2 separate regions of the Homo sapiens genome follow, and region 2 is linked to region 1. The links come from fine-mapping of genetic effects on gene expression. A gene starts in region 1. The other region holds a variant in brackets. All regions are shown on one strand. Distances are between the middles of the regions.

Evidence for each region. PIP is the estimated chance that this variant, and not a neighbour inherited with it, causes the effect.
Region 2: its variant is fine-mapped to the expression of MED14 in cerebellum (GTEx, PIP above 0.99). The same link has a PIP of 0.9 or more in cerebellar hemisphere.

What each region holds. Positions count from the first base shown.
Region 1 is chrX:40,732,027-40,745,056 of GRCh38, forward strand. MED14 (mediator complex subunit 14) reads right to left here and starts at 3,516. Exons shown (of 31, transcript NM_004229.4): 1 at 3,172-3,516. The coding sequence starts at 3,386. It overlaps MED14OS (MED14 opposite strand), which reads left to right and starts at 3,664. Exons shown (of 2, transcript NR_169211.1): 1 at 3,664-3,764; 2 at 6,167-6,672. RefSeq lists enhancers at 2,886-3,807, 3,808-4,728 and silencers at 3,124-3,503, 3,764-3,853.
Region 2 is chrX:40,707,619-40,715,618 of GRCh38, forward strand. It overlaps MED14 (mediator complex subunit 14), which reads right to left. Exons shown (of 31, transcript NM_004229.4): 4 at 6,919-7,092; 5 at 6,160-6,289; 6 at 5,296-5,424; 7 at 4,568-4,675; 8 at 3,551-3,683; 9 at 2,361-2,511; 10 at 1,730-1,841. Among named protein-coding and RNA genes, the nearest start is that of MED14, 24 kb to the right of the region's middle. The variant T/C (reference allele first, on the strand shown) is at 3,462.

The sequences.
Region 1 (13,030 bases):
GAAAAATAAAGCAGCAAGTAAGAAGGACAGAGTGAAGGGGCAGAGTACTATTTTATAGGTGGTCAGAGAAAATCTTTCTGATAAATTGTATGTAAACAAGGACCTAAAGGACTAATGAGAAAGCAATTCACACAGATTTCTAGGGAAAAAGCAAAGGCTCTAAGATGGCAGTGTGCTAGGCACTAACAAGAAACATCAAGAAGGTTTGGAGGCTGGGCACAGCGGCTCACGCCTGTAATCCCAGCATTTTGGAAGGCCAAGGCGGGTAGATCACCTGAAGTTGGGAGTTTGAGACCAGCCTGGTCAGCATGGTGAAATCCCATTTCTACTAAAAATACAAAAATTAACCAGGTGTGGTGGTGCATGCCTGTAATCGCAGCTACTCGGGAGGCTGAGGCACAAGAATCACTTGAACCCGGGAGGCGGAGGCTGCAGCAAGCCGAGATCACACCACTGCACTCCAGCCTGGGCAACACCGTGAGACTCTGTCTCAAAAAAAAAAAAAGGTTTGGGAGGCAGAGGTGGGAGGACTGCTTAAGCCCAGGAGTTCAAGATCAGCCTGGGCAACATAGTGAGACTCTTGTCTCTACCAAAAATAAAAAAATTAGCTGGGCGTGGTGGCGCATGCCTGTAGTTCCAGCTATTTGGGAGGCTGAGGCAGGAGGAGCAGTTGAGCCCATGTCGAGAGGCTGCAGTGAGCATGACTGTGCCACACTGCACTCCAGCCTGGGCAACAGAGTGAGACCCTGTCTCAAAAATAAAAAAGAAACATCAGGAAGGGTAATGTGGTCGGAACAGGATAAGCAAAGAGGAGAGTTTCAGGACATGCAGTTAAAGAGGTAAGGGACAAACCAAAAGTGGTTAAGAGGTTGGAGAAAAAAAAAAGGTTAAGGAACAGAGAAGGCACATCATGTAAGGCCTTAAAGGTAAGATGACCACATGTTCTGGTTTTCTGGTTTGCCCAAGACAGTCCTGGTTTATGCCTCTTGTTCTGACATTATTATCATCAGCCCCATTATGCTCAAAAGTGTCCCGGTTTGGACTATAAATTTTATGGTCACTATACAGATGATTATCAATATTTTTTTTTTTTTTTTTGAGATAGGATCTCACTGTCACCCAGTCTGGAGTGCAGTGGTGCGAACATGCTCACTGCAGCCTCAACCTCCTGGGCTCAAGCGAACCTCCTGGGCCCAAGCAATCCTCCCACCTCCACCTTCCAAGTAGCTGGAACTACAGGCTTGGGCCACCACACCCAGCTAATTTTCTATTTTTGGTAGAGACAGAGTCTCGAACTCCTGGGCTCAAGTGACCCCCTCCCCTGCCTCAGCCTCCCAAAGTGCTGGGATTACAGGTATAAGCCACCACACCTGGCAATTATCAACACTTTTTAATCTCAGTGAGATGGGGAACCATCGAAGGGTTCTAAGCAGAGAAATTTTAAAAGAATCATCCTGGCTATTTTGTGGAGAAGAAACTATAGAAGGGGCAAGGGAACTACAGAGATACCAGTGAACTGACTATTGCAGTACACAGGTGAAGGATTAGGTGGCTTGGACCAGCACTTGGTGGAAGTGTTGAGAAATGGTCAGACTCTGAAGTCAAAGATAACAGGACTTGCTGATGTATGTAGGATGTGAAGAGAGAGGAGCCAGGAGTTATTCCAAAATATTTGGCCTGAGCAACAACAGGAAGAATGGAGAGACTAGTGAGATAGCAAAGAAGGTTCTGCAGGAGGGAGGACAGTGGAATCAGGAGTTTGGTGCTGGAGTTGCTATGTTGAAATGCCCATCAAGATACTGAAATGTAGGCATCTGGATATAGAGTCTGGAGTTCATCAGAGAGGTCTGTGCTGGAGATACAAATATGGGAACCATCACATAAAGGGTGTGGGACTATAACTACATACTTATTCTACGGCAATAAAACAGATGTTCCTCTCTTCATAAGCCAAGTCCTAAAATAGTAAAAAGACAACCACAATTCAAGGAATTTCTACAAATCCCCTATGGAAAAGCAAATTACACCACCGATAGCAGCAGTTTTCAACATTTTTTTTCCCACAGCTCTATATAGGCACATACATGAAACTTTCTCATGGATATTCTTGGATTTTTATGAAATCCAACAATAAATGGTGCAGAGAGGTATATCATTATAATAGTCCCTAAACCTGACAGCGATTTAAATTTCTCATTAGCCATGGGTAGGCTTCTTTAACACTACTTTTTTCTGTCCCATTCAAAAAAGTACAATACATCAAAACTGAGAATGACGTTTTACAGGAGTTAAGTAGAGCCTACTCTTTCAGTCATCTGCAAACAAGTATCTGTTATCAGTCTCTAAAAACAAATTACTGTGACGCTTTAGAGCCTAATATCTGCATACTAATGTATCTCAATTGATAACCCTGATCTGAAGTCTTGCAATAGATAAAAAATAAAATTCTGATTAACTTTTTCTGAACCTGGGTTATAAGATGTACAACAGAGTCCCAAAATGTTACGGTGCCTTTTCTTCACACACTGAAATTCGTTAGTATATTCTGATCCTATTCTGAAGGGATTAACAACTTAATCATGCCCCAAGGCATTTCATGGGTAACTAGGTGATTTATAAACCCCCTTCATACTCCAAGAAATAACAGACTACTTACAAAAAAATTTTACTCACACTAACTTCATTAAGACCTCAAACACTCAAAAGTTCCAGAAAAAAAGTACTTTGAATTCAAATTTGTATTTTATACACAACGTATGTAGCTCCTGCATTAACTTAGAAGCAATAACAGCTTACATTTAAAACGTATCGTCAAGAGGCTGTAATACAAATTTCCCATCTATAGAGTTTTTTCTAAAAGCTCGAATATTATGTATTCCAGCCAAGAAATCAAGAGAGTTCTGTTGGGAACTCGGACAAAAATTTCACACAATTTTCAGTGGAAGTGTAACAACACGCAAAATTAACAAGTCTCTGTTGCATCGTTGCCAGGAAGACCCCAGATACAAAGCTTCTTCTCCACCTCTGCTGAACCCCAGGAGTTCAAAAATTCTAGACTAAGCAGTCCAGCGGAGAACACAGCAGCCTCTCGGGGAGAGGGAGGTGCAAACGTCTCAGCCGGTTGGGCGGGAAGGGGGGCTGGGGAACAGGCAGGGGTTTCGGGGCACTTACAGGTCCGTCAACACCATAAGCTCCGAGTAGGCCCGGTGCAGCAGAAATTCAATGAGGGTGCTCAGCCGGTAGCCCGGGCTAGCCGCAGCTGCAGCGGCCGCCGCCACGGCGGCTCCCGGGGGAGGAGGGGCTGGGGCTGACGGGGGTCCGCCGCTGCCCCCGCCGCCGCCTCCGGGCGGGACCAGCTGGTGGTTCTCCAGCTGCACTGGGGCCATGGCGGCGCAGGACCGGGCTTGGCGCAACGGCACACGATGCGGTCCTCGAGCCTCCCGGGCGCTCGGTCACCGCGCCGAAACGGGAGCGGGCAGAGTCGCCACCGCCTACCGCCGGGCCGCCTCAGAACAGGAAGCCGTGCGCCGACCGCGGAAGCCCGCCCCCATGTAGCGAGAAGTCCGCCGACCCCAGGGACAGGAGCGAGGGGCGGGGGGAGGCGGGGATGGGGGGGAAGCAGGGCGGCCCCGCAGAGGGGAAGCTGCGCCTCCGCAAACGCTCAGAAGCAGCTTCGCCAGACAGCCGCAACGTACATGTTGACTGCCCGAGGCGGAAGTCGATCGGCAGAGCGGAAGGGGGACCTGCAGAGGACCTTCCGACAGGTCTGTGTCTGTTCTCTCAGCTGTCTAGCACCGCAGCGCTGGGGGGCGCGTGGGAGTGAGGCGGTACCTGTGAGCGCGCGGGAGAGCGGAAAAGGGAGCCGCGCGCCGCCGGAAACCAGGGTGAGGGCTGAGCCGGAGTCGTCACCGGGAACGTCAGCAGTTGCCCCGCCCTTACCCTCGCCGCTCTCCCTCCCGCCTCCGCCCCCTGGCGTTGTAAAGGCGACAATTTGCCCAGAGAAATCCACCATCGCTTCCTAAGTGGGGCACAAACACAGCCAGGGGAGGCCTCCTCTAAATGTTCGTGAATTCTGGTTCTGGAATCGCGAAGAAATGGGAGCGGCCGCGCGCTTGTGATTCTCAGGCCTTTGCTCCTCCCATACACGTCCACGGCGCGTTACGTGGGAGAACGTTTTCGCCCCTTTTTTTTTTTTTCCAAACTGTGGGAAAAGGTGCTAGAAAATATGATTGCGGGTAGAGACAGGGCCGCTGGCAGAGTAACTCAATTTTAATAGAGTCGGGTGTATGCTGAGGTCGTCACCATCCCCCAAATCCTGTCAGTCCCACACAAAAACGGCCCTTAAATCCCCTGCCACGGGCTCTCATATAGTTTTTGTCCTTGCTCTTGCAGTCACCGCTCTATTCTGAAGGGCTTTTCAGTTCATCCATGCCTACCGACACTCCCGTCCCCCCCATCAAAGTCCACGTTTAATTTTTTGTACCTGCTTTAAAACAGCGATTCTCAACCTTGGCTGCACTTTGCAATTATCTGAGGAGCTGTTTTTTAAAAAAATACTTAGATATATGGGTTCCACCCCTGTAGATTCAGATTTAATTGGTCTGGCTTGAGGTCTGGGCTTGGGGAATTTTTGAACTTTCCTAAGGTGATTCTAACATGCCCTAACGTAGAGATTCACTATTAGAAGCATTCGTTGCTGCGACCCCTTTCAAACATCTTTTTGCAGTTTCATCTCCTCTTGGTGTAAGAGATGTTCATGATGTTCCCTAAGGTTAGAATATTCTTACTGTCATCACTTGGGTAATTCTTTATCATTGTTGAAAGCGGTTCATCTGCTTCTGAAGGTGTAAGCTCACTTGTTCCCTCCCTTGGTGGTCCTAAAGCACATTGAAACAGAATATCATTGTGCTAGTTATTAAAATGCATTGGGATTATTTATACCCCTTACAGATACAGTTGCTGGAAGGCAGCTACCTTATTTTTAAATATTATTTTTATTTTTAATTGATAGTATATACTTATGGCATACAATGTGATGTTTTGAAACATGTAACCATTGTGGAATGAGCAAATCAGGCTATTAACATCTATCAAATGATATACATACTTACTTCTTTTGGTGAGAACATTTAAAATCCACTTTTAGCAACTTTGGAAGATACAAAAGGTTATTGCTAATTGTAGTCACATTGCTGTGCAATAGATCACCAGAACTTATTCCGCCTATCTAACTGAAACTTTGTACCCTTTGACTAATATTTCCCCTTTCTCCACCCACTGTCCTACCCGGCCTCTGGTGGTAACCACCATTCTACTCTTTACTTTTTTTTTTTTTTTTTTTTTTTGAGACAGAGTCTCGCTCTGTCGCCCAGGCTGGAATGCAGTGACGCGATCTTGGCTCACTACAACCTCGCGTCCCAAGTTCAAGCGATTCTCCTGCCTCAGCCTCCTGAGTAGCTGGGATTACAGGCACGTGCCACCACGCCCAGCTAATTTTTTTTAAATTTTTATATTTTTAGTAGAGATGGGGTTTCGCCATGTTGGCCAGGCTGGTCTCAAACTCCTGACCTCAGGTGATCCACCCACCTTGGCCTCCCAAAGTGCTGGGATTACAGGCATGAGCCACCATGCCCGGCCTGAATTTCATTCTTTTTTAAGGCTGAATAGTATTCTGTTGTATATTTATACCACATTTTTTAATTCATTCATTGGTTGATGGACACTTTGATTCCGCATCTTAGCTATTATGAATAATGGTGCAATGAACATGGGAGTGCAGATATCTCTTCAACATACTGATTTCAGTTCCTTTGGATATATACCCAGAAGTAAGATTGCTGCATCCTGTAGTAATTCTATTTTTAGTTTCTTAAGGAACCTCCATACTGTTTTCCAAAATGGGTGTACTACAAATTTACATTCACATCAATAGTGTACAAGGGTTCCTTTTTCTCCACACCTTCACCAACACTTGTTATCTTTCATCTTTTTGATTATAGACATTCTAACAAAATTTGTTTGCTCCCTACACAAATTAATTGTGTGGTTTTAATTTGCATAGAGAGGCAGGCAAAGGCTACTCTGCTAATGGCTTTAGAGGCCACAGTAAGAAGTTTGGGTTTTATTCTAAATGCAAAGCCATTACAATGTTCTCATTTTTTTCTAGGTTGGTCAGACCATGCCCATGGTTCCTCCTCTCGACTTCACTATGAATGCCGCATCTGTTGAATGAATGCAGTTTCTGCTCTTGCTTTTGGATAGAAGTGATTGCAAATCTTATCAAAATAATGAAAAAAATTACTTTTCAATTCCTTTTCAACCCTTTTGAGTCTGAGGGGCAGCTGTACATTAAATGAAACCATATGTATCATAATTTCATTTTTCCATCAAAAGAGCTTTAAAGGAAATTCCCCTTTTTCTCCATGTTTTCAATATTTTTTGTTCCTTTTGTTAAAATCAGATTAATCTCATGAAACATCTGAAGCATTTAAGTCAATTTAAGAGCTGAGAAAATATCATGCTGCTAGTTCTGAAACGATCTGAAGTGTGAATCAGGTGATCACCAAATAGGGGAACAACTGAAAAATGTGAATGAAAGAAGTATGTACCTATACTATAGTGTCAAATATTGTACTGTAAGCTTTAAAATGATAAATTGGAAACTTTCCAAAAGTGGTTTGAATATGGGTCATTTATTTAGTAACTCAGCCAAACATGCTAACATTTTCTTTCCTTCCCCATTAATTTATTTTACTAGCCCTTCCTATGTTTGCCAAGTGGCTATGTTACTGAAACCAGCCCAATTGTCCCATAGAACCGATGTTTACAGTCTTCTAAAATAAACATAGATATTGACCCTTCCAGTTTTAAAGCTTGAAACTTATATTTGTCTTAACTGAGTTCCTTCCTCGGGAAAATAACCTTCATGCCTCCCAGATAGTTTCAAGAAACTGAAACCAGGTCACCATATCTAGACAATGAGAAGCCAGGTCCCTCATCCTTCATGATTTCCTTACCTCTCCCTAATTCCTGTTTACCCACATGTAGTTACATTCCTTTCCCACTATATAAACCCCCAATTTTAGTCAGTCAGAGAGATGGAATGACTACTTCCCTGGCAACAGTCGTTGTCTCAGTGATTGGCTTTCTGTGCAGGGAGCAATGGGACCTAGACCAAACCCCTGGCATTTTGGTAACACTATCTGGTTGGGAGGTGGGATATCACTGCACTCAGGAGCTTTCATTTACTTTACCTCTCTGGTCTCCAATAATTCAAGCACAGTAAGTTTCATAGTCCTATTGCTGAATTTTCACCTTATTTTTCTTTAGAACATTCTTTTTGATAAATAGTACTTTTCCATTTTTAAAGATACCTATTCAACTCACAGAAATTTCAATAAACTCCCCATCTCCTGCCACTTATTCCCTTACTACACTGTAACTTCACTACATAGTACATGCCATTCCCTCCCACTGAAGATAGCTTGCATTATGTTGCAGATACTTGAAATATTGTTTCCTGGCTGGCTTCTCATCCTTCAAGTATCAGTTTAATGATAAAATCCTCAGAGAGGCTTTCCTGACTATATTACATTAGGCATGTACAAGGAACTTCATTGCAGCTTTATTTGTAGAAGCAAGAAAATATGAACAATCTTAACTGTCTCTCAGTAGGAGAATAGATAAGTAAACTATATTTTTGCCCAGGCATGGTGGCTTATACCTGTAATCCCAGCACTTTGGGAGGCTGAGGCCAGCTAATTGCTTGAGGCCAGGAGTTCCAGACCAGCCTGGCCAACATGATGAAAACTCCGTCTCTACTAAAAATACAAAAACAACAACAACAACAACAACAACAAAAACAAATTAGCTGAGCGTGGTGGTGCAAGCCTGTAATCCCAACTGCTTGGGAGACCGAGGCACAAGAATTGCTTGAACCCGGGAGGCGCAGTTGCAGTGAGCCGAGATCCGCCACTGCACTCCAGCCTGAGTGACAGAGCAAGACTCTGTCCCAAAAATAAAAATAAATAAATAAATAAATATATTTTTATGTAACTGTTCAAATGTATTACAGCTACGTAAACTGACATGAATACATCTTAAAAACAATACTGAATAAAGAAAAGCAATCTTTCTGATACCACTTGTGTCCATTTTAAAAGCACACAAAAGCCGGGCACGGTGGCTCATGCCTGTAATCTCAGCACTTTGGGAGGCCGAAGCGGGCAGATCACCTGAGCCCAGGAGTTCGAGACCAGCCTGGTCAACACAACAAGACTCTGTCTCTACAAAAAATGCAAGAAATTAGCTAGGTGTGATGGCATGCACCTGTGGTCCCAGCTACTCGGGAGGCTGAGGTGGGAGGATTGCTGGAGCCTGGGAGGCAGAGGTTGCAGTGAGCTGAGATCACACCACTGCATGCCAGCCTGGGCAATAGAGCAAGACCTTATGTCAAAAAAAAAAAAAAGAGAAAAGAAAAGCACACAAAATAATACTCTATAATTTAGTATATTGTGTAGTAAAAGTAAAAAATATAAATGGGGATGATATATACCACCTTCAGGATAGTAGTTACTTCTAGGGAGGGCTAAAGGATAAGATGATGCTTTATTGGTTACTAGCTATTTTATCTAATGGATTTCTGGAAGAAAAACATAAAGGAAATGTGACAATATTAATATCTATTAAATCAGGGGATAGAGATCTGATTGTTAATATATTCTGTACTTTTCAATATTTTTAAATATTTCATAATTTTAAAACATTTAAATTTAAATGTTTCTATCAGTATAATTTACACTAGCTACCATTACAAACTCCAAAATCTTGGTGACTTAACAGAGTAAGAGTTTATTTCTCATGCTCATGAATCTCAATAAAGATGTACCTGATGGGGATGGTCCTCTAAGTAGTAACTCGGAGACCCAAGCTTCTTCCATCTTGGGAAGCCATCACTATATGAGAATTTTTTTTGTGTGTGTCCACCCATGTTCCATTAGCCAGAATTAGTCATACAGCCCATTTAAAGGCTAGGGACCTGGAAAATATGGTCTTCTTGTGTGCTTAGGGAAGAAATGAAATAGTATGATGAACAGATAGCATTGTTTTTACCACAATATTAAAGTAGTCTCCTCTTTTTTTCCCCTTAGAGCACAGCCCCTGAAATCAGACTGCTTAGATTCAAATCCTAGCTCTACCACACACTATCTGAACGCTCTCCAGCAAGTTACTTTACTTTGCGTGATCTCAGTTTCTTCATCTGTAATAATACTGCTTACCTCAAAGGATGATTGTGAAGAATTAATGAGTTGACATGTGCAAAGGGCTTAAAATAGTAAGTGGTCTTCATCCTTTGATGATCAAACAGTAAGTGATCATCATCATTTAGGATCAGTAAGTCTTGTATTTGCTTATTCACCTAATAACCTGTGAACTTTCTTCTTCTGTCCTCATGTGGCTATCTTTCTGATCTCCCCACCTACCATAGTGCCTAGCTACCTGGCTTTAATGAATGAATGGGATGAATATATTTTTGCACCAACCTAATATTTCTTCATTTATATGCTATAGTTCTATTTGTATTACATTTACTTTTGTAGGATTAATATTGACTTACAGGCTGGGCGCAGTGGCTCACGCCTGTAATTCCAGCACTTTGGGAGGTCAAGGCAGGCAGATCAGGAGGTCAGGAGTTCGAGACCAGCCTGGCCAACATGGAGAAACCCCGTCTCTACTAAAAAAAAATACAAAATTAGCCGGATGTGGTGGTGGGCACCTGTAATCCCAGCTACTTGGGAGGCTGAGGCAGGAGAATTGACTGAACCCAGGAGGCAGAGGTTGTAGTGAGCCGAGATTGTGCCATTGCACCCCAGCCTGGGTGACAAGAGCAAGACTCTGTCTAAACAAACAAACAAACAAACAAACATTGACTTACATATATTTACATGAAATAAAGTGTCAGGATTTTTTTGTGGAGGGGAGAGGGGACAGGGTCTCACTCTATTGCCTAGGCTGGAGTGCCATGGCACAATCATAGCTCACTGCAACCTCTATCTTCTGGGCTCAAGTGATCTTCCTGCCTCAGCGGAGACTACAGGCACACATTACTGCACCCAGCTGATTTTTAATTTTTTTTTTTTTTTGTAAAAAGGAGGTCTTGCTATATTGCCCCAGCTGATCTTGAACACCTGGCCTCAAGCTGGCCTCAAGCAATCCTCCTACCTTGGCCTCCCAAAGTGTTAGAATTACAGGTGTGAGCCTCCATGCCTGGCCTCAGGATTTTTTTAAAAATGCTTCAGAAAAAAATGTTGGGGAGTTACATGAAATAAGATTAGCAGAATGTTGACAGTTGTTAAAGCTGATGATGAATACATGGGCGTTCATTATAGTCTTCTTTTCTGTGTTTCAGAATATACATAATAAAAGTTCAAAAAAAAGACTGGAAATGGGGAGCCAACTAAAGGCCCAGATCTTTTCTCTTTCCTAATGAACAGCCTTTAATATATATCTATTCATTTTCAGATTTAAAAATTTCTAATTTACAGAGTGTCTAACATAAAAAAGAAAACTACACGGAAACTTCAATTATAATTGCCTATGAAAGAGATAAAAGTGTCAAATATTTTAACAGTTTTGGTTTCAGGCCTTGAAAAGAATGTTTCTGAGGAACTCTTAAAAAAAACTTATACAATTTTATAATCTTAAAATTTTCTAGCTATGCTAAAATTCAGTGTCTTTTAAATAAATGTTTTCTAATGGGTGAACAAAAGAAGAAGAAAAAGAAGGGCATTACTAGAAATAGAAACGAGGAGGAGGGAAGGAGTCCATTTAGAATTATTATATTCTTCATTAAGAGATAAAAATCTTGTCTTGCCTTGTTCTCTTTGTTGGAGAAGAGCCCCCTCACCTCTGGAAGGGGCAAGGAGTAAACCTGCCATCCATAGCTGCTCAAAATAAACAATGAAATCAGAGTAAGACACCAGGGCAAATAGCAGGGGCATGAGCATGGTAGCTCTGGTTCCAGTGCCTCCAAGTCTCACGGAGTGTTGTGATGAGCATGGAGACTATATGCACAGTGAGTTGTGCCATAGCTAATGGAACCCAGGGCTGAGGGCTCCATGCGTTAATTCTTACCAGTCAGATTGAAGCAAAGTTGCCTTGGTGCACATATGAGGAAGGAGCTGAGGTGTCATGCACAGCCAAATAGTCATGTTATTGTGAGGGTGTCAGGTATGGCTAAACAGTGCTGCTATTGTGAGAGTGTCATGCACAGTGAAATAGTTCAGATCCTGCCATACCTACATGAGTGTTCTGTTTTTATAGCATGAGGATGGGGATGGTAAACCCAGCAGCAGCGTTGTGTTGCCAATTGCAGCTGCCGCCTGACTCAGGTGGACCATGTGATTGTTTTGCCATGCTGCAGTGCTACATCTAGGGGACAAAGAAAGCATTAAATGTTTCCCCCCTTCCCACACCTCCTGGAGACTAAGGTATTCCTTCCCCAGGTCCCAGGTTTATTGCTCTTTCCATATAGTCCATTTGTTTTAAATCAGTAGCCACTATTTCTCCTTTCGCCCAGCCATCCACCACCTCTACCCAGATGGACGAAGGCTCATGGGAACTGGGCACCATGGGTAGAACTTGCAACAGCCTGTGATGTCCTCTAACATTGCCCAAGCAGGCCACTGTAGGGATACTCTAGTGCCCATGAATTTCACCAACTATTATCCTCATGGCCAGCACTCTTCCATATCCAACACCTGAAACCAAGTCATAGCAGAAGCAAAAGGTTGCAGTCACCTTCCTCCTGTTGCCTAACCTTAGGCTGAAACCAGTCAGGCTTACCAGGCACTAAGGGCCAGTGGAAAAAAAGAATAGGGGTGGCTGAAGATTGTCAGGATGCAATCATAGATACATAGCACCAGTCTCCCATTCCTCCTACCCCTTCCATCCTGGCCTTCCCTAGGCAATGGGAAATTTTGAATATAATTGATCAGAAAACTCTTTCAGTCATGTGCATATTCTAGGAATATCTAGTGTAGGTAAATTGTCACACATGTCTATGAGAAAGAAAAAATTTAATAAACTATTTATTTCACTTAAAAATATAGAGACAAGTAAGTTTAAATAATAGCCTTTGTTACTGTAGTTACATCCAGTGAGGAGCGAAGGGGGAAGAGCCCCTCATAACCAGCAGATCTTGTGAAAACTCACTCACTATCACAAGAACAGCATGGGGGAAACTGTCCCCATGATCCAATCACCCCCAACTGGGTTCCTCCCTGGACATGTGAGGATTATGGGGATTACAATTCGAGATGAAATTTGAGTTGGGACACAGAGCCAAACTGTATTATTCTGTCCCTGACCCCTCCTAAATGTCATGTCCTTTTCACATTTCAAAACCAATCATGCCTTCCCAACAGTCCCCCAAAGTCTTCACTCATTTCAGCATTAACGCAAAAGTCCAAGTCTCATTTGAGACAAGGAAATTCCCTTCTGCCTATGAACCTGTAAAATAAAAAACAAATTAGTTACTTCCAAGATACAGTGGGGGTACAGGCATTGAGTAAATGTTCCCATTCCAAATGGGAGAAATTGGCCAAAACAAAGGGGCCACAGGCCCCATGCAAATCCGAAACCCGGTGTGGCAGTCATTAAATCTTAAAGCTCCAAAATGATCTCTTTTGACTCCATGTCTCACATCCAGAGCACGCTCATGCAAGGGGTGGGCTCCCACAGCCTTGGGCAGCTCCTGCATGGGCTGGCATTGAGTATCTGAGGCTTTTCCAGGTGCATGGTGCAAGTTGTTGGTGGATCTACCATCCTGGGGGCTGGAGAACAGCGGCCCTCTTCTCATAGCTAGCTCTGTAGACCCTTAAGATTGGGGATAGGACCTATAGTCTTAGTTTAATTTTGGACACACTTGTTTCCTAAAAGTATACTACAAAGTCTGATTATAAAATCTTCTGTTAGTATTTGTCTGGGTTACAGTGTTCATATGTGTGATCTTCAGAGTCTTAAATGATAT
Region 2 (8,000 bases), 27 kb before region 1:
AACATGCTGTGAACCTCAAAAAAAATGTGTTAAAAACAGTATGTAAGAGACCACACATTATGATTCCATTTATATGAAATGTCCAAATAGGCAAATCTATAGAGTTAGAAAGTAGATTAATGATTGCCAAAAGGGAGGCAGGAAGGGAGAGGAGTGAATGGGTTGTGACTGCTAATGGGTACACGGTTTCTTTCTGGGATGATTAAAATGTTCTAAAATCAAATTGTGGTGATAGTTGCACAACTCTTTCAGTAAAAACCATTGAATGAGGTAATTATATGTGAATTATATCTCAATAAAGCTGTTAAGAAAAAAAGACGAAAAGGCAGTGGTGGTTAGTAGCCTTTCTAATTCCAGTGAGAGTTTCAATTATACTTTCCAATCATAATTTTTAGGTCTGTATTTAACATCTTTGCTTGAGGGATTAAAGGGGAGGGCCTTCTACTGAAGCTTTTAATTAAATTAAGATAATGAAGTACTGATAAAGCTAATGTTAAACCCTGATAGGGCTAATGGACAGGCACCCCCAAGACACATCTAACCAATACATTCACCAAATTTCTGGCAGATCCTTTATTTCTTTTTTAAGGCCCATATTTGCATTTTTGTTAAGTTAGGCTGCCCCTCTCCTTAGTCTCTTTAAAAATATAAGCTAATGCTTTGGTTTATCTTAGATCCCCTCTTTCACCTCTATCTTTTCACTTTCCTTGAATGAGTATGTATTCTAAATACACACTTATTTTTCTAACTTTCTGTCTTTCCTTCAGGCAATTTTTTAAAATCTATTTCTGTCAAAGTGATTTTAATCCAGAGTTACTAGTACATACCTAAGAAGCTGCTTCTTTAAGTATAATGGATTGAGCTGAGCTCTGTGATGACAAAAGGCAGCACCTTCGTTACTAGCACTATTAAGACTTCCTACTTATAAGGCACTTCACTTACGTCATCTAACTTAATTAAAGACTGTGCACTGTGGGCACAAGGTAATTATGGCCAAAAACAATTGGGGCAGGGATAGTAAATATGCCCATTATGATGTTGCGAACCTATATTCCCAGAATGAAAGGGTTTACTTTCTAAATGACTGTCCCTCAAAGCTCTGAATATACTTACTAGGTAATTAAACTTGGAAGATTTTTCACTATGTCCATGTATCTGCATTCCTTATTTGAACTGTTAATAATTTTTAAAAATTTTTTAAAAAGACAAGGGATGAATTCTGCTTCACTCAAAGGGGCATATTTTACAAGTATATTATAAATATTTGGAATGCTGTTTTATCACTAGAAAAAAGTTTAAAAATAAGGTTCATATTAAAATGTTAGCTCATGTTTCATAAAGTTTTTCTTTTTTATTTAAAAAATTTTATAAATAGAGACGGGGTCTCATTTTTTGCCCTGGCTTGTCTAAAGCTCCTGGCCTCAAGTGATCCTTACATCTCGGCCTCCCAAAGTGCTGGTATTACAGGTGTGAGCCACCATGCCCAGCCCCATTTCATAAAGTTTTAAGGAAATCCAATACACAAATATTTCAAAAATAAGGCCAAGCTAAATAAGTAACAAGGGAAAAATTAGCATAAGTTTGGCAGATCACAAGTTAAAATGCAGAAATACCAGCTTCCACAATAAAAGCAAAATATCAAGAAAAAGTCATATTAAGATTCTCATCAAATAAAACTGGATTCTAGTTTAAACAAAAGAAAAACAAATGTCAATTTAAAAGAACCTACAGTTTTCATTGGCATTGAAGCCTCTAAGAATGGCCTTCAGTTCTTGGAGCTTCTGATGAGCTCTTGCATGGACACTGTCAATCAGGAGTTTTTCTATTGATAAGTGGTCGATCTGCATAAATAAGAACAACAAATTCAAATGTGCAATTTAAACATTTTTACTTTAAAAGCCCAAGAGTAGATTACTGTGCTTCAAAATATTTCCTTTTGGAATCACACTGATTAAGTGTTAACCCTAATAGAAAGCAAACTTAAAGTTAAAAATTAACTAATATGGTATTGAGTTAAAAATTAACTTACAATTGATAGCTTAAAAACTATAGTTAACATTTTGGTAAGTAATAGGAGAAGATATTACAAATCAGTTATGGTGCTCTAATGCCAGACCTTAAAATTAAAATGGTATCTGATCTAAATTATAAAATATGAAAGAATATCTTAAAAATTATATATTATAGTATCAGATGTTTTAAAAAAACAAATGTAAGAAGTGTAACATTTACTTAAAATAAGTTTCATAAAAGGTTTTAGGAAGAATTAGATATTTTTAAAAATTTGTGCTAAGAGTTTAAGGATAAATGGCAAGTTACATTCATTTAAACCAATATGAAAATATATTGAGATCTTTTACCTTCATGGCTCTTTCTACTAATTTGGAATCAGAAGCTGGCAAAGGAGGATCGTGAAAAATCTGTAAAGGCTTGGAGACATCATTCTCATCAATTTTAATTGTAACTTTGTGAACAGATGCTGTTCCAGTTTTTCTCCCAAGAACCTGTTGACTAAAGAAAAAAATGAAATGAAGAATTTTTTTCAACACAGTCTGTTAACTTCTAGAATAAAATAGAGACAATCCATTGTGCAGTTTAGCCACAGCCTGGAATACGGCAGGCCCCCAGTGTTTGTGGAGGGAATAATAATGGGAAGATAGCTATTCTGTAATCCAATACAATATTTGATTTATTGCATTTAAAAAAGACATATAATTTAAAAATAAAACATATGCACACATGAAAAAGAACCCCAAAACAAAAACTACCTGTCTTCTAAGTAGTATCTACTCACCTCTGACTCCTTTACAGAAAATGGGGGTCATTTGGGATAATAAGATGCCGGGGTGGGGAGAAAAACAGGAATCAAGTAAAGTTCAAACAGGGAATTGAGAGTTACAAACAGTCCAATAGGAATTTTCTCCCAAAGAAAGTTTTTAACAGGCACAATTCAAAGTGGAAAACTGTGATAAGCATGCATGTTTTAAAAAATGATACCCAACAATCTAACCTAATGGTCTTTTCTAACCTAACGGTCTTTTAGCTATTTGGTATAAACCCAAAGTAAACTAACCTCTCAAACTTTTTAAGAATAGTAAGTCTTAGTACAAACAGGTAAATGTCTATGTATTTAAAACATGTTCTAAGACAGGTGTCAACTATGGATGTCCTATGTGGTCTACATAATACTATGGGACCTTACTACACAAAAGCATGTTACTAGAGGTGCATAGCTATTGGTATACAGTCATTCCTTGGTATACTTGGGAGACTGGCTCCAGGATTCCCGTCCCAATACCAAAATCCACGCAAACTCACGTCCTGCAGTCAGTCCTGCGGTCAGCCAGCAGAACCCACGTATAGGGAAGGTTGGCCCTATACGCAGGTTTCACATCTTGCAAATTGATCTGCATATAAGTGGACCCACACAATTCAAGCTTGTGTTGTCCAAGGGTCAACTG[T/C]ATATTAAATCAGATGTATGAGAGAAAAAGAGAAATAAAAAGAGTATTTACAGTCATAGCACGAACCCACCAGAACTGATTTTACTTACTTCCAAACTGAAAGGGAGAGGCACTTTCCAGCATGATACCTTTCCACCTGCACAAGGTCTCCCCACCGTTCTCGGATTAACATTAGAGTTTGGGAATGTAACACTTCTAACTGAAGTGATAAACAGAAAGAATCTGATAGATGTTGTTAAGTAAAATTAATACATTACACCAACAGTCAATCAAGTCCAGGAGAACTTCATTTAAGGAAGGTTCTCTTATTGAAAACCTGGAGAAAAATTTCTGAAGAAAATTTCTGAAATGATTATTTCTCCAATGCCTCATCGTAAAAAGTATTATAATTTATAGCATAATTTCAGAAAAAGGTTTTATATTTAATTTTAAACCAATATAAAACCATAAAGTCTGGGTTGTGTCTTAATTCATCATAGTTTAGAGAACATGGATTGACCAAATAGTACTATTTTTTTCACCAAACAGTACTTTTTTATTATTATTATTTTGTGTGTGTGTGTGACGGAGTCTTGCTCTGTCATCCAGGCTGGAGTGCAGTGGCATGATCTCGGCTCACTGCAACCTCTGCTTCCTGGGTTCAAGCGATTCTCCTGTCTCAGGCTCCCTAGTAGCTGGGATTACAGGTGCCCGCCACCACACCAGGCTTCTTTTTTTTTTTTTGGATTTTTAGTAGAGACAGGGTTTCACCATGGTGGCCAGGCAGGTCTTGAATTCCTGACCTCAAGTGATACACCCGCCTCAGCCTCCCAAAGTGCTGGGATTACAAGCATGAGCCACCGTGCCCAGCCTCAAACAAGACTATTTTTAACTAATCACTTTTTGCTTTTACCTGCAAAGTCAACAGTAAAATTTTAAATTTGGTTTATTACAAACATATCACTATTCTTCACTATTCTCCAGCCCTATCTGCACCTCAAAAAGGGTGGGGGAGATGGGGGCAAGGAATGTAGGCTGCTACAGTTCAAGACTAAGGACAAATGAAAAATGTGGGAGAGGTACCACAAAATCCTTACAAATATATGTCTCAAATTTCAGAAGGATACGTAGGCAGTTGTACATATCCTGAAGAGGTTTCTCATCAGCAAAGAGCCTAGACTGCACCAGTTGATGGATGAAGCTGATTTGCATGCTATGAACCAAAGCTCGCCCATCTTCCGTTGGCAGAAGAAAAGAAAGCAGTTAATTAAATAGGTGTACAAGTGTGTCACTATACCAACTAAGGAAGCACATAATAACAATGAATTTTTTTAAAAAGCACTGAAATTATCTACAGAAACTTGACATTGTACTCTGAGAAACACTGAAACTTCCACGGTCAACAGGCAGTTACAATTATAAAACTTGCTTCAAATTACAGGATAAATTGCTGCATGCATTTATTATTTTGCAGGAATATATATATAGAGAGACAGGATCTTGCTCTGTCACCCAGGCTAGAGTGCAGTGGCATGATCATGGCTCATTGCAGCCTCAACCTCCCTGGGCTCAGGTGATCCTCCCACCTCCCAACCCCAGCCTCCCAAGTAGCTGGGACTACAGGAACACACCACCACGCCCGGCTAATTTTTAAATTTTTTGTAGAGACAGGGTCTTGCTATATTGTCTAGGCTGGTCTCAAACTCCTGAGCTCAAGCGATCCACCTGCCTTGGCCTCCCAAAGTAGTGGGATTACAAGCATGAGCCATCATCCCCAGCCGGGAATATTTCAATAATATAAAAAATCAAACATTTAAACTAATACTTATGATTTAAATCACTACTTATGATTTACCTCCTGTTTCCTTATCCTCAACTAGAATTTCTAGCTTGAGAAGACGCCATGGAACATCAGGGTCATCTCCCATCACAGTCAAGGTGGCTTCAAATTCTCCTTCAACACGAAACTTCACCCGGCCATTTGCTTTTAGAAGAAAAAGATGAAGAAAAAGAAGTGTACTTTGCTAGAAAATGAGAATCTTCCTCCTGACCTAGAATTTTCAGTCTTACTTATAAAAATTTTTAAATAGATTGAAGGTTCTTTCATAAGGTTCCAACAATTCAATGGTTCCTGAATAAGAAGTAGCCAGCTTCCAGGTCAAGAAATGAAAGGCAACTCTTCTAACATAAATGAACAATATTTTCTTGAGGCACAACTCTGGGGACTCTTCTCTCTTTCCAGCCCCACTCCCAAGCTGCAAATACCAGCACTGTATTTCTAGGTACTAAAGAGAAATGATACAGCTGGCAAGTCGTAGAATCAAACACCATAAAACTGTCAGTCAAATCTTCATGATGCTATTTTTCCTTGAATAAAACCCAAAAAGCTGTTTAGGAAAATATTCTAACATGCAAATTCTGTCACCCAGGCTGGAGTACAGTGGTGCAATCTTGGCTCACTGCAACCTCTGCCTCCCAGGTTCAAGCAATTCTCATGCCTCAGCCACCCGAATAGCTGGGATTACAGGTGCGGGCCACCGCACCCAGCTAATTTTTGTATTTTTAGTAGAGATGGGGTTTCACCATGTTGGCCAGGCTGGTCTCAAACTCCTGACCTCAAGTGATCTGCCTGCCTCAGTCTCCCAAAGTGCTGAGATTACAGGCATGAGCCACCGCACCTGGCCATCAACTCTTAAAAAAATAAATTTCAGATACATACCAACTGTAAGATTTGCTAACTGAGGAGGAAGATCTGTGGTTACAAGCCGATGTCTAAGAATCTGATTCAGCTGATGGAGTGTGGCTTGTTTTTCAATTTTGGTAATTGGGTCTGGAGGAATAATTTTGTCCTGCAAAAAAATTTAAGTGATTTTTAAATAATGTACAAACGGGGATTTTTTTTTTCAATCTTTTCCTGTCTTTATACAGTGTTGCGTACTTTACCTAAGAGAATCTTAACACTCATTTCTGCAGTCTACTTACAAAAACAATGGCCATTACTATCATGCATAAGAGCAACAATGATTCTAGTCATTTAGCTAAGATCATAATACAACATGACCTCCCTTAATGCTCTATTTATAAACCAACTAAATATCACTTGATAGCTTCCACAAGTTCTTACAAGTATAAAATACAATATGGCACCAAGTCAGTAAACTACCAAAACAATAAAAGTTTAAAACACTTTCAAAAAGCAACTAGCATGTAGCATTTTCACATCTGAAATAGATGTTATGTCTGCACATCCGCGCATCCCTGGGGGAAAAAAAAATAAAACCTTCACCCATTTTGATATCTACTCACATCTGGCCCCAACTTATTTCAAAAAAGCACAACTTTAGTTACAGAGAAAAAAAGCAAACTATATGTACTGTTTGTTTTAACAATGTTTTTTGCTGGGCTACTTAATAATACAATCCAATCCAGTGCCAAAACCTTTAGTTTTTAGGAACATGGGGGCAAGCAAAGAACTTACCCTAATGCAGGTTGGCAGCCGTGGGTAAGATCCAGTAGTTAGTACATCAATGGCATATGGGATGGCAAAACTAGGCAGGCGTGCATGGACCAGAGCATCTCTAGCTAACGAGGCCAGGCGATCAGCAGTGTCCACAAACAGGATGGCTTGCTGATCTAAAAAGCTTGAAATCATCTTTAAAGTAAAGGGTAAATGTATTAAGCATCCCTGAAAACTATCTCCTTTTCACACTAAATATTGTTAAATCATTCCAAAGTAAACTTCAAGGGGAATTAGTATCAGTTTTCCATATTTCAAAGTAGTTCTTCAAATATTCTCCAGTAACTTGAAGAAGAAATATTTAATACACTAGTATTTGATATTAAGAGCAATAATTTTCTGTCACTTTAAGTAAAAGCTTTCTAATTCATTTCTCCATCCTTAACATTACACACACATAATATCAAAGTTAGGAAAAATAAGTAGAATAAAATGGTTTTTTCCTCTTACAGACTTCCAGAGTTGGTTGGTAATGAAGGAGTTAAAAGCATGGACTCCTAGACCTAGACTGCCTTGTTCTCCATTTTAACTCTGCTACTTACCAGTCTTGTAACCTTGGGCAAGTAACTTAACCTCTTTGTGCCTCAGCTTTTTTCAACTGTAAAATGGAGGTGATCATGATTCCCAATCTCATAAAGTTGTTCTCTGTATTAAGAGATAATGCAAAATAGAGAACACAGAAATCCACACATAGCCAACTCATTTTCCAAAAAAGCACCAAGAACATACACTGGGGAAAGGACAGTTTCTTTAATAAATGGTGATGGGAAAACTCGATAACCATCATATGCAAAAGAATGAAACTAGACCCCCATCTCTCACACTATACAAAAATGAACTGAAAATGAATTAAAGGCTTAAGCATGAGACCTGAGACTATGAAACTACTAGAAGAAAGCATTGGAAAAATGCTCTAAGACATTGGCCTGGGCTGGGTGCGGTGGCTCAGGTCTGTAATCCCAGCACTTTGGGAGGCCAAGGTGGGCAGGTCACGAGGTCAGGAGATTGAGACCATTCTGGCTAACATGATGAAACCCTGTCTC